2 separate regions of the Homo sapiens genome follow, and region 1 is linked to region 2. A link means that fine-mapping ties the variant in region 2 to the expression of a gene that starts in the linked region. Tissue or cell type: blood mononuclear cells. Region 2 holds a variant in brackets; the other region holds the start of a gene. All regions are shown on one strand. Distances are from middle to middle.

The links.
Region 1: ARHGAP6 starts here. The variant in region 2 is fine-mapped to the expression of ARHGAP6 in blood mononuclear cells (TOPMed, PIP above 0.99). The same link has a PIP of 0.9 or more in T cells, monocytes, pancreas and whole blood.

What each region holds. Positions count from the first base shown.
Region 1 is chrX:11,663,021-11,668,401 of GRCh38, forward strand. ARHGAP6 (Rho GTPase activating protein 6) reads right to left here and starts at 2,900. Exons shown (of 13, transcript NM_013427.3): 1 at 1,221-2,900. The coding sequence starts at 1,808.
Region 2 is chrX:11,387,738-11,393,118 of GRCh38, forward strand. All of the region lies in intron 1 of ARHGAP6 (Rho GTPase activating protein 6), which reads right to left. Among named protein-coding and RNA genes, the nearest start is that of MIR548AX, 72 kb to the left of the region's middle. The variant G/T (reference allele first, on the strand shown) is at 2,917.

The sequences.
Region 1 (5,381 bases), 280 kb after region 2:
GACCTAGCAAAATTTGTTAGTTTTTTGTAATCTGCACCCCCAACACCTAACAGCCTCAGTTACTTTGACACAGTAACTAACATTAATAATATGTGATGCTAATAATTCTGATAAATGATGCTTATTTTTCTAAGGCGGTTTACTAAAGCCAAAGTCTAACAGTTATCTCACATTAACACAGCTGAGTATGATCTCAGATGCTATTTTCAAACGGTTTTCCTTGGTTGTGTATTTAGCCTAAATCTCCAGCAATTACATGGTATTTCATTTCATTTCTGTAATGCTAACTGTACTTTAAAATATTAAATTACAACTGATGGAATCTCCCTTCCCTTATGGAAACAGATCCAAGGCAAACCTATAGAGTTTGTGGACCGAAGGGGATAGGGGCTGTTCATTTTTAAAACAATTACTATTCTCTGAAAGTGTGTTATTTTCAAAGCGCCCATCAGTGACAGTTTCCCAATAGGTCAATTCACTATTTTTCTTAACTGGACAGCAAATATTTTAAGGGTATCTGATAGCTCCCTCTGAGTCCCCTATGTATTGTTGATTCTTCACTAAACTACTAATTGTTCTAAATGGAATTTAGGCATCAGCATATTTCCATGATCTTTCACACCCCTACACAGAGATTTTCTTCTTCTCCTAGGTTAAACTAATACTCAGTACCATAGATTTCTGAAATTGCCCCTTCAGGGAAAGAAAAGGTGAAAACTAGAGAATTCTTGTCCCCCCTGCCACCCAAACACACACACACACTCACTCATACAGTCAATGACACCCTCCAAAATAATGTTTCTGAATTCTCTACAGAACAAGATGGCAGACATATTTCAAAATATATTTCATCCAATCGTTACAAACAGCTTAGCAATAGATATTTGAGTTGGAAAAAATATCAACATTGGGTGAAGGGATAAGGTGACCCTTTGAAATTGCCTGCAGCACTAACAGAAAACCAGAACACCATCTCTTTCTCCAGCTCCCACGACTGCTCCAAAGTAGAGCCAACAAGTCCTACAAGACGCACAAGCGGGTGGCCACTAGGGACATCCCATTTCCAGGCACCATTTAGCAAGTAGAAGAGGAAAACCCACACCACGGAAACCCCTTAGTGGGTGCCTTGCTCTGTAAATGTAATGGAATTAAAGGCGGTCTCCTGAAACTGCCTGGGGGCCTCCTCCTTGGGCCGTGGGACGCGCAGCGCTGGTCCCTACCTCGGATTTCCACACGACGTAGGGGTGCCCGCGACTGTCGGGTGGGGACTGGAACTTCCTCTGCTGGAGCCACCTCCTAGGAGAAGCGAAGATGCCATTGGGGCCTCCCCCGGATGAACAGAGGATGCTGGAAGCGCTTCGGCTACTGGCTGGCCCGGCCAGGACAGAAGGCAGGTCCCAGGCCATGCTCTTCTTGAGGCCGCCGCGACCCAGGGGAACCTCATAGTCAAAGTGAAAGCTGCCGGATGGTGACTTCTCCTGCGGGGTGCTGGGTGTGGAGAAGGACGAGCAAAGAGGTCCAGGAGGCGGTAGCCTGGTGGCCCTGGGGGGCGGACCCCGGGAAGAGGACGCCAAGCGAGGGCCGAGACTCTCGGCTGGGAGTGATGGGGAGTAGAGGCGGCCCGCCGTGGCTCCCCGCGCACTGCCCTCCGCGCCCGCCTCGTCGCTCCCGCAGCCGCCGATCAGGGCCGGGTCCAGGCTGCGGGTCTGGCGCAGCTTCCTCTTGGAGAAGCCCTTGGCCGAGGCCGCGCTACTTGAAGCGGGCGAGGAACAGGAGAAGACGCTGTGGAGCAGGCTCTGCGCGGACATCTCGGCGGGGCTGCACCTGAGGACCACCTCCTCCTCCCTCCCTGGACGCTGGTGGCTTTGGGTCGGGAACCGAAAGGGACTCAGGCAAAGGTGCCAGGCGGGGCTGGCCCGGGGTTTGCCCAGGGCAGTGGAGAGCAAAGCCCAGCTCACGCGCCGCCGGTGCGCTCCAAGTGCCCCGGCGGCGGCAGGAGCAGCAGATCCATCACCAGCCTTCTAGGAAAATGGGTCTGGGGACCTCCTGCAGCCGCTAGAACCTTCCTCCGGAGCCCAAGACGCGAAGAGGGTCAGGAAGAGGAGGAGGAAGGTCAGGCGCTCGCTGGGTTCCCAGCTCCAGCCTGCCAGCGCCACTCCCCCTTCCTAGCTGAGGCGGGAGACGCAGCGCTCCTGCTCGCTGGCTCTGGATGGCCTCTAAGACTCCAGCAAGCTCCTCCTTGCGGCCCGAGGACAGTCCCGAGGGCCAGGGAGAAGGCTGCCTGGGCGTGCGCCCAGGGCGCGTCCACCGCGCTCCCGGCGCCGCGAGAACTTCCTCCCGCTCCTGAGCCGGGCGCCTGAGCTGCGCCTCCCTGCACTCTCTCCTTGCCCCGGCGCCCGAGGTTGCGCGCCTGGCCTCCGCTGGGCTGCTGCGCCCACTCTTCCGACTGCAGAGGCTCAAGGGTTGTTCCAAGCTCAAGGTTCCCGCGGGGTCTCTGTCTTGCTGCAGTGTGGGGACACCGAGCGTGCTGCGCCCGGGACCTCCAAAGACTGCGTGCCCACGGTGGGATGGAATTCCCGGCGGCGCTCAGCGCTCTCCGTGGAGGAGGGAGCTCAGGAGACAGCCCCAAGGCCGGGTGTGTGTGTTCCGCCGGAGAGGAACACGCTATTCGCAGCCCAGCCTTGGGCCCAGGGCAGACGCGGAGATGACCCCGTACGCTCGCTCTAGAGGCAGCGGGAAGGGGGCGGCCAGGACGTGTAGAGCTGGAGGAATGCCGGGGCTGGAGCTGGGGCGGAGCCAGGAGCAGGAGAAAGCAGAACGTGAAGAGTTTTCCAGGCGCCAAACCTGCAAGCGGCGAGGAGAGAAGGCAGCTCGCCACTGATACCGGGTCTCCTGGGGAGAAAGTCGTGAGGACGGAAGTGCGGACCTTCTCCCCCGTCTCCCCACCCCCAGATCAAGGGTCGCGCCAGCTCCACTCACGTTTCTGGAAAGGAAGGGAAGTGTCAGATTGCACCCCACCCACTGGTGTCAGATGGGCAGCCGGGGACGATTGCTCTGAAGTTGGAGTTAAATCTCCTGCCTTTTCTCCCCGCGCCCCCCCACCCCGCCCTGTCCCGGCTGTTTTTGTTTTTAAAAAGGAAGGATAGATAGGAAACTGTCTAAAAGCAGTGGCTGCCGATGAATGAGCTGGAGATGGAGACCTACTAAGAAAGTGGAGGGGGAGGAGCCTTTGCCGTGGAAGGGGTCCTGAGCACGTGCGGAAACGTGCTCTAGGAGGAGGGGTGAGTGAGGCCGGGTAGGGGGCAGGCGCCGGGCGCAGCTTCAGCCCAGAGGCTGCAGAGATTGGCGCTCACAAAGCGATCTGTCTCCGCGTCCCGCTCTGGGACGCCTCGGGTCTCAGCGCGGTGGCCACAGTCCTGGGAAGCTGGAGAACGCTGGGGAAATCAATCTTCCCGGCAAGGAGATGAGTCTGAAAGCAGCTTCTCCCGCTGTCGGACCCCTGGAATCTATAAAGCGCAAAGCCTCGCCCTCTTGGAGGGCTTTTTGATGTAACAGTTAAGCTTTGCAATGCAACTTACAACCATCTCAGCAGGGAGCAGACAGAATGTTGGAAATGTCTACTTTGTGTTTGTGTCCTCTTTTATCACTTAGGGATGAAGATAATTTTATATAAATGTAAAGGTGACTCTACCATTTCTTTTATTTTGGAGAAAAAATACAATGAAATTATAAATACAGATGTTGGACACGAACATTCCTCTTGCATATCTACCAGAATTGTCCAAGTTTGATTCTGGAAGACTTCCTTTATTCCCTATGACATATTCAGGGGAAAAGTTAATTTACTTAGACTCTTTGAAAAGCGTGTTTGGTGTTCCTAGGTGTTCAGCTATTTTGGAGGAGGTACGTCATGAAATCTAATTAGGAGAATTCGTTGTCTCCACAAAGGGCGTCGGGCTCCCAGGTCTTGGCTGTACTCGTTTTTTGTAAACGCAGCCGAACAGACTGCACCCTTAGAGATTTTTTTTCCGGTAGCTTTAATGAGCTATCTGCTGTCTGAAGACAGAGTTCGATTCTAGTTTCCCATCCCCCATCGCTGTCCATCTCTTCTCACCCTGAGCTTCTTAAGTATTTTCAGCGGCTGTCAATCAGGTGTGCTGCTGACAGGCACAGTGTTTAAAAAGAGCTCTTGCTCCCCTGCCTAACTACACCCAGGCCAAGTTACATTTGGGGGCTTGTTGGCATTGGCTTTCTTCCCTCCTCATACAAGTCACATTAGAAGTAAAAGTGTGTGGGTCTTGTCTGCCCTTTCTTTAGTAACAAAACTGTAATTTATCACTGGTAATGGAAACACTTAATGTCTCTACCACTGGGATACGAATGCATGGTTATGCCTCATTGCATGGTTATGCCTCAGTGGAGTTTGGCATTCGGGGTAGATGGTTAACAGAGTCACTTCACAGAATCACTTATAACTCAAGGGGGGTGAGCAACTTGATGATTGTATTTGATGATTTATATATTTCTCTAACCCCATATGATAACCATGGGGTAGCAAATGAACCCCTGCCATGACTGTATAGGCTAGTATGAATGCCCCCAGGCACAAGGGCATACATTCTTGCTCATGGGTGTTGGAGAGCCAACCAGCAGAGGGATTCTTCTATTAGCACTCCTAGGGCTTGGAACACACACATGCCAGTTAATTCATCATCTAGTTTCCAAGTGTTCCTGACCCTCCAGGAAACTGGAAACTTGTGTCATTGTTGGGAACAGTGAATAAATTGTTTTAAATATTAATCAAATTAGACTGGGGCTCCTTTTAAAAACTCAGTGTAAGTATGTGTGCTTTTAATACCTGGGGCAGGGGATGTTGATGTTCTTCTAGAAAGACTTTGTAAGAATTTTTTTGGATTTTTTTAAAACTATTTTGATTTTCAACCTGACTGCTATTAGGTTTACCTTGCAGTCATAGTGGCTTATGGTGGATTCATTCATTCCTATTTAAGGCATTCTATTTAACTCTTGTTTGTTATATATTCTCTTTGTTTATATAGACTCAACTCACATTGGCCTTTCTGATCAACTGTCAGGTTATGCCAAATTCAGTTAAGGAAGATCTATGGGTTTTGGTTACCAATTTCAAAAAATGGCTGGTTTTGTTACATTGCTTCCCAGAATCCTTCTTACAATTCATCAGCTAGCTTCAGAAGCATTATAATTGGTAGTCAAGAAATAAATAGTTTTAATGTATATGCTTTCAAAAGCAGGTTTCTAAGACTTTGCTTTGCTTCTCTATTAGGGCATTTGATATTGAAAATAGTGCCTATATTTGTTAATTTTTTCCTCAGAGACAAAGTTAATCAAAGACTTGGGATACC
Region 2 (5,381 bases):
GTTCCCCTTCCTGTGTCCATGTGTTCTTATTGTTCAATTCCCACCTATGAGTGAGAACATGCGGTGTTTGGTTTTTTGTCCTTGCGATAGTTTGCTCAGAATGATGGTTTCCAGCTTCATCCATGTCCCTACAAAGGACATGAACTCATTGTTTTTTATGGCTGCATAGTATTTCATGGTGTATATGTGCCACATTTTCTTAATCCAGTCTATCATTGTTGGACATTTGGGTTGGTTCCAAGTCTTTGCTATTGTGAATAGTGCTGCAATAAACATACGTGTGCATGTGTCTTTATAACAGCATGATTTATAATCCTTTGGGTATATACCCAGTAATGCAATGGCTGGGTCAAATGGTATTTCAAGTTCTAGATCCCTGAGGAATCAACACACTGACTTCCACAATGGTTGAACTAGTTTACAGTCCCACCAACAGTGTAAAAGTGTTCCTATTTCTCCACAGCCTCTCCAGCACCTGTTGTTTCCTGACTTTTTAATGATCACCGTTCTAACTGGTGTGAGATGGTATCTCATTGTGGTTTTGATTTGCATTTCTCTGATGGCCAGTGATGATGAGCATTTTTTCATGTGTCTTTTGGCTGCATAAATGTCTTCTTTTGAGAAGTGTCTGTTCATATCCTTCACCCACTTGTTGATGGGGTTGTTTGTTTTTTTCTTGTAAATTTGTTTGTGTTCATTGTAGATTCTGGATATTAGCCCTTTGTCAGATGAGTAGATTGCAAAAATTTTCTCCCGTTTTGTAGGTTGCCTGTTCACTCTGATGGTATTTTCTCTTGCTGTGCAGAAGCTCTTTAGTTTAATTAGATCCCATTTGTCAATTTTGGCTTTTGTTGCCATTGCTTTTGGTGTTTTAGACATGAAGTCCTTGCCCATGCCTATGTCCTGAATGGTAATGCCTAGGTTTTCTTCTAGGGTTTTTATGGTTTTAGGTCTAACGTTTAAGTCTTTAACCCATCTTGAATTGATTTTTGTATAAGGTGTAAGGAAAGGATCCAGTTTCAGCTTTCTACATATAAAATTTTCTCAACTAAACTCAGAAAAGGAAGTGGGGAAATATGTTTGGGTGGCTTGTAAACTATCAATTATTTTACATATTTGAAACCATCTTTAAATAGAAATCCAGTGTACCATTGGTCTTCACACTGAAAACAATTCACTCAGCCACAAAATAAAAGCTAGCAACACGGAGATAAGAATGTCTTATTTAGGTCACAAAATGCCTACAGATTCTTTTTCTGTTTTCATCTCTACTGATCAGTGATTCTCAACTGGGGGCAGTTTTGCACCCTTAGGGGACATTTGGCAATATTTCAGACATTTTTTATTGTCATGATTGGCAGCTTGTTATTGGAATCTACCGGGGATCGACCAGGGACACTGCTAAACACTCTACAACGCATGACAAATCCCTTAAAGTAAAGAATTATCCAGTCCAAAATATCAATGTGCTGAGGCAGAAAGATCCTGCTCTAGATAGTAAGGTTAACATTTCTGCAAATAATAACTAATACTCTCTATAATAACTCTCTATTGATACTCTCTACTAATAACTGCCTTTCAACCGAAACACAAATAAGTTTAAACATGCACCAATTATATGCTGAATTAAAGAAAAACAAAAAAGCCTCTTACAGAAAATCAAAGCACTAATAAAATTATCCTGTGGGTTTACCACAATGAGAGATCAAGGACTGGAGAATTAAAACATTGGCCAACCAAGTGAAGTTGCTAAAGCAAAAACCAGATATCAAATTATTTTGATTGTTGGAATTGAGTTTACACTCAGACAAATTGAGAGTCCTCTAAATGAAGACTTCTGAGCATGCGTTATCATCAATATTTAGTAAATTATGCTTAAAATATCTGTGTTTGCTAAATTTTACATGTCCTAAATAATACATTTGTAGGGGAAAAAAAGGCTTTTCAAGCTATACAATTATATAAATTTCTTCCAAATCACTTGGTAAATTTGCTCACTTCATGGAAAACAAAACAGAGGTGGGATAGGAAGATATTTTTCAGAATTGCAATGCAAATACAGTGAGAAATAATATCACCCCCAAACATGAGAAAGTCGGTGTGGTTAGAGCTGAAGGAAGACAAGGAAAACTTATCATGCATCCCAGTCTCTGATCTGTGATAACAGTAATGTTAACCACTAGTCTAGTTCTAATGGGAACTAGAAGTCTATTCTAGAGAAAGATTTACAAATTATTAAGAGTATTCATTAAAAGCCACAAAACATGCCTATGTCCTGAATGGTATTGCCTAGCTTTTCTTCTAGGGTTTTTATGGTTTTAGGTCTAACATTTAAGTCTTTAATCCATCTTGAATTAATTTTTGTATAAGGTATAAGGAAGGAAACCAGTTTCAGCTTTCTACATATGGCTAGCCAATTTTCCCAGCACCATTTATTAAATAGGGAATACTTTCCCCATTTCTTGTTTTTGTCAGGTTTGTCAAAGATCAGATGGTTGTAGATGTGTGGTATTATTTCTGAGGGCTCTGTTCTGTTCCATTGGTCTATATCTCTGTTTTGGTACCAGTACCATGCTGTTTTGGTTACTGTAGCCTTGTAGTATAGTTTGAAGTCAGGTAGCATGATGCCTCCAGGTAGGCAATACCATTCAGGACATAGGCATGGGCAAGGACTTCATGTCTAAAACACCAAAAGCAATGGCAACAAAAGCCAAAATTGACAAATGGGATCTAATTAAACTAAAGAGCTTCTGCACAGCAAAAGAAACTACCATCAGAGTGAACAGGCAACCTACAAAATGGGAGAAAATTTTTGCAATCTACTCATCTGACAAAGGGCTAATATCCAGAATCTACAATGAACTCAAACAAATTTACAAGAAAAAAACAAACAACCCCATCAAAAAGTGGGCAAAG[G/T]ATATGAACAGGCACTTCTCAAAAGAAGACATTTATGCAGCCAATACACACATGACAAAATGCTCATCATCACTGGCCATCAGAGAAATGCAAATCAAAACCACAGTGAGATACCATCTCACACCAGTTACAATGGCGATCATTCAAATGTCAGGAAACAACAGGTGCTGGAGAGGCTGTGGAGAAATAGGAACACTTTTACACTGTTGGTGGGACTGTAAACTAGTTCAACCATTGTGGAAGACAGTGTGGTGATTCCTCAGGGATCTAGAACTAGAAATACCATTTGACCCAGACATCGCATTACTGGGTATATACCCAAAGGATTCTAAATCATGCTGCTATGAAGACACATGCACACGTATGTTTATTGTGGCACTATTCACAATAGCAAAGACTTGGAACCAACCCAAATGTCCAACAATGATAGACTGGATTAAGAAAATGTGGCACATATACACCATGAAATACTATGCAGCCATGAAAAACGATGAGTTCATGTCCTTTGTAGGGACATGGATGAAGCCGGAAACCATCATTGTGAGCAAACTATTGCAAGGACAAAAAACCAAACACCACATGTTCTCACTCATAGGTGGGAATTGAACAATGAGAACACATGGACACAGGAAGGGGAACATCACACACCGGGGCCTGTTGTGGGGTGGGCAGAGGAGGGAGGGATAGCATTAGGATATATACCTAATGTAAATAACTAGTTAATGGGGTCAGCACAGAAACATGGCACATGTATACATATGTAACAAACCTGCACGTTGTGCACATGTACCCTAGAACTTAAAGTATGATTAAAAAAAGAAAAGAAAAGAAAAAAAAAAGCCAGAAAACTTTAAAACATAACTGGTACTCTCAAACAAGCAATTTAAATAATTGATGAATCCCATTTCCACGTGCTTGATAGTCATCAGTGATTGAGGGCCTGTGAGTGAGAACAATCAAGTCAGTGGTCTTCAAGTTTTGCTGTACGTTCTCATCAGTTGGAGATTACAAGCTTTCTTTTTCTTTTTTAAAATGATGCCAAGGCAGGCTTCTTCCCAGACCAAATAAATCAGAAGCTCTAGGAGTGAAGCTTGATCTTTGGCACAGTATTGTACAGCACATCTCAAACTTTAACTTTCATGTAGATTGCCTAGGGATCTTCGTAAAATGCAGATTCTAATTGAGTGGGTCTGGGGTGTGCCTGAGATTCTGCATTTTGCAATGTCAACAGTGGTGTTCTAAGGAACACACTTGGAATAGTGAGGTGTCAAAAGCTTCCTGTTTGATTCTAATGTGCAGCCAGCATTGAGAACTGTCTATGACTAAGCTCCTAGTTGTAAGCTGGGTGCTATGTGGGCACAGAAGTAAAATAGAAAAAGAAGCATTCCTCAAATAAGGAATTGTTCCATCCTAAATCACTGTCATGCAATTCACATATCTTTGGCTTATCTTTTGCAAGAAAAAAGGGTCAAATTTTCTAATGGGAAGAAATTCCATTGTAGACCAAAGGAAGCTCAGTTACTCCTCTGGAAGGACAGCCCATTTGATGTTATCTTATATTAATACAGGTAACTTGCCCCAGCCTTAGCTTTTGCGTTTCCTTTTCTGGAAGGCTCTTTCAGCAGAGTTCTGCATGGCTGTTTCCTGTTCATCATTCCAGCCTCCTCCTATGTACCATTCCCAACCCCACCCCATCACTCTCATTTCCTTATCCTGGGTTTTTCACCAGCTGTTTATCACGAGTTAATTAATCAATAACAATAAATGGCCAGTGAGCTCAAAGAAACCCACAACCATTCCCATGCCCTGCTGAAACATGAATGAAGCCTGAATATTGGTTAGTACTATTGGTCTTGGGAGAGAGAAATCCTAAAAGGAAGAAAAATAATGACCTTATTAAAAAATCACACTGGCTAGCATTTTGGAGGAGGCTTTACATTTATAGCTTAATCTCAAATTGATTGTCTCATTTGATGCCTATGAAAAACTCATAGGGTGGGGATTTTCCCCATTCTCAAGGTAGGAAAACTGAGTTTTTGAGATGCCAAAGAGCACAAAATCACAGAAGGAAGAATCAAAGGCAGGCATCTGAATTCAAAGTCTAAGTTCTTTCAACTTCTCCTAGCTGACTTCTTTATTTTTTCAACACACTCTTAAGAATCAACAACCAAGTCCTAAGACTGTACATACATTTGAACTTGATATTAAGTAAATTTAACCCACCAGTATCTAAAATGGGAAATAAGAGATACAAGGCAAGTCACGTTGGTGTGTTTGTCCCAACCCTACACCCTACTTTCTCCATGTGATTTTTAATGGGGGCCCTTTCTATTTACTGAATTACAAGAAGGATATCCTGAAAAAGACACTATCAAATTCAGGAAATAGTCAGTTAGTTTGTATTACTGAGTATTTATAAAGCAGTATTATTTTCTTATTTAAAGAAAATGGAAGTTTTAATTATT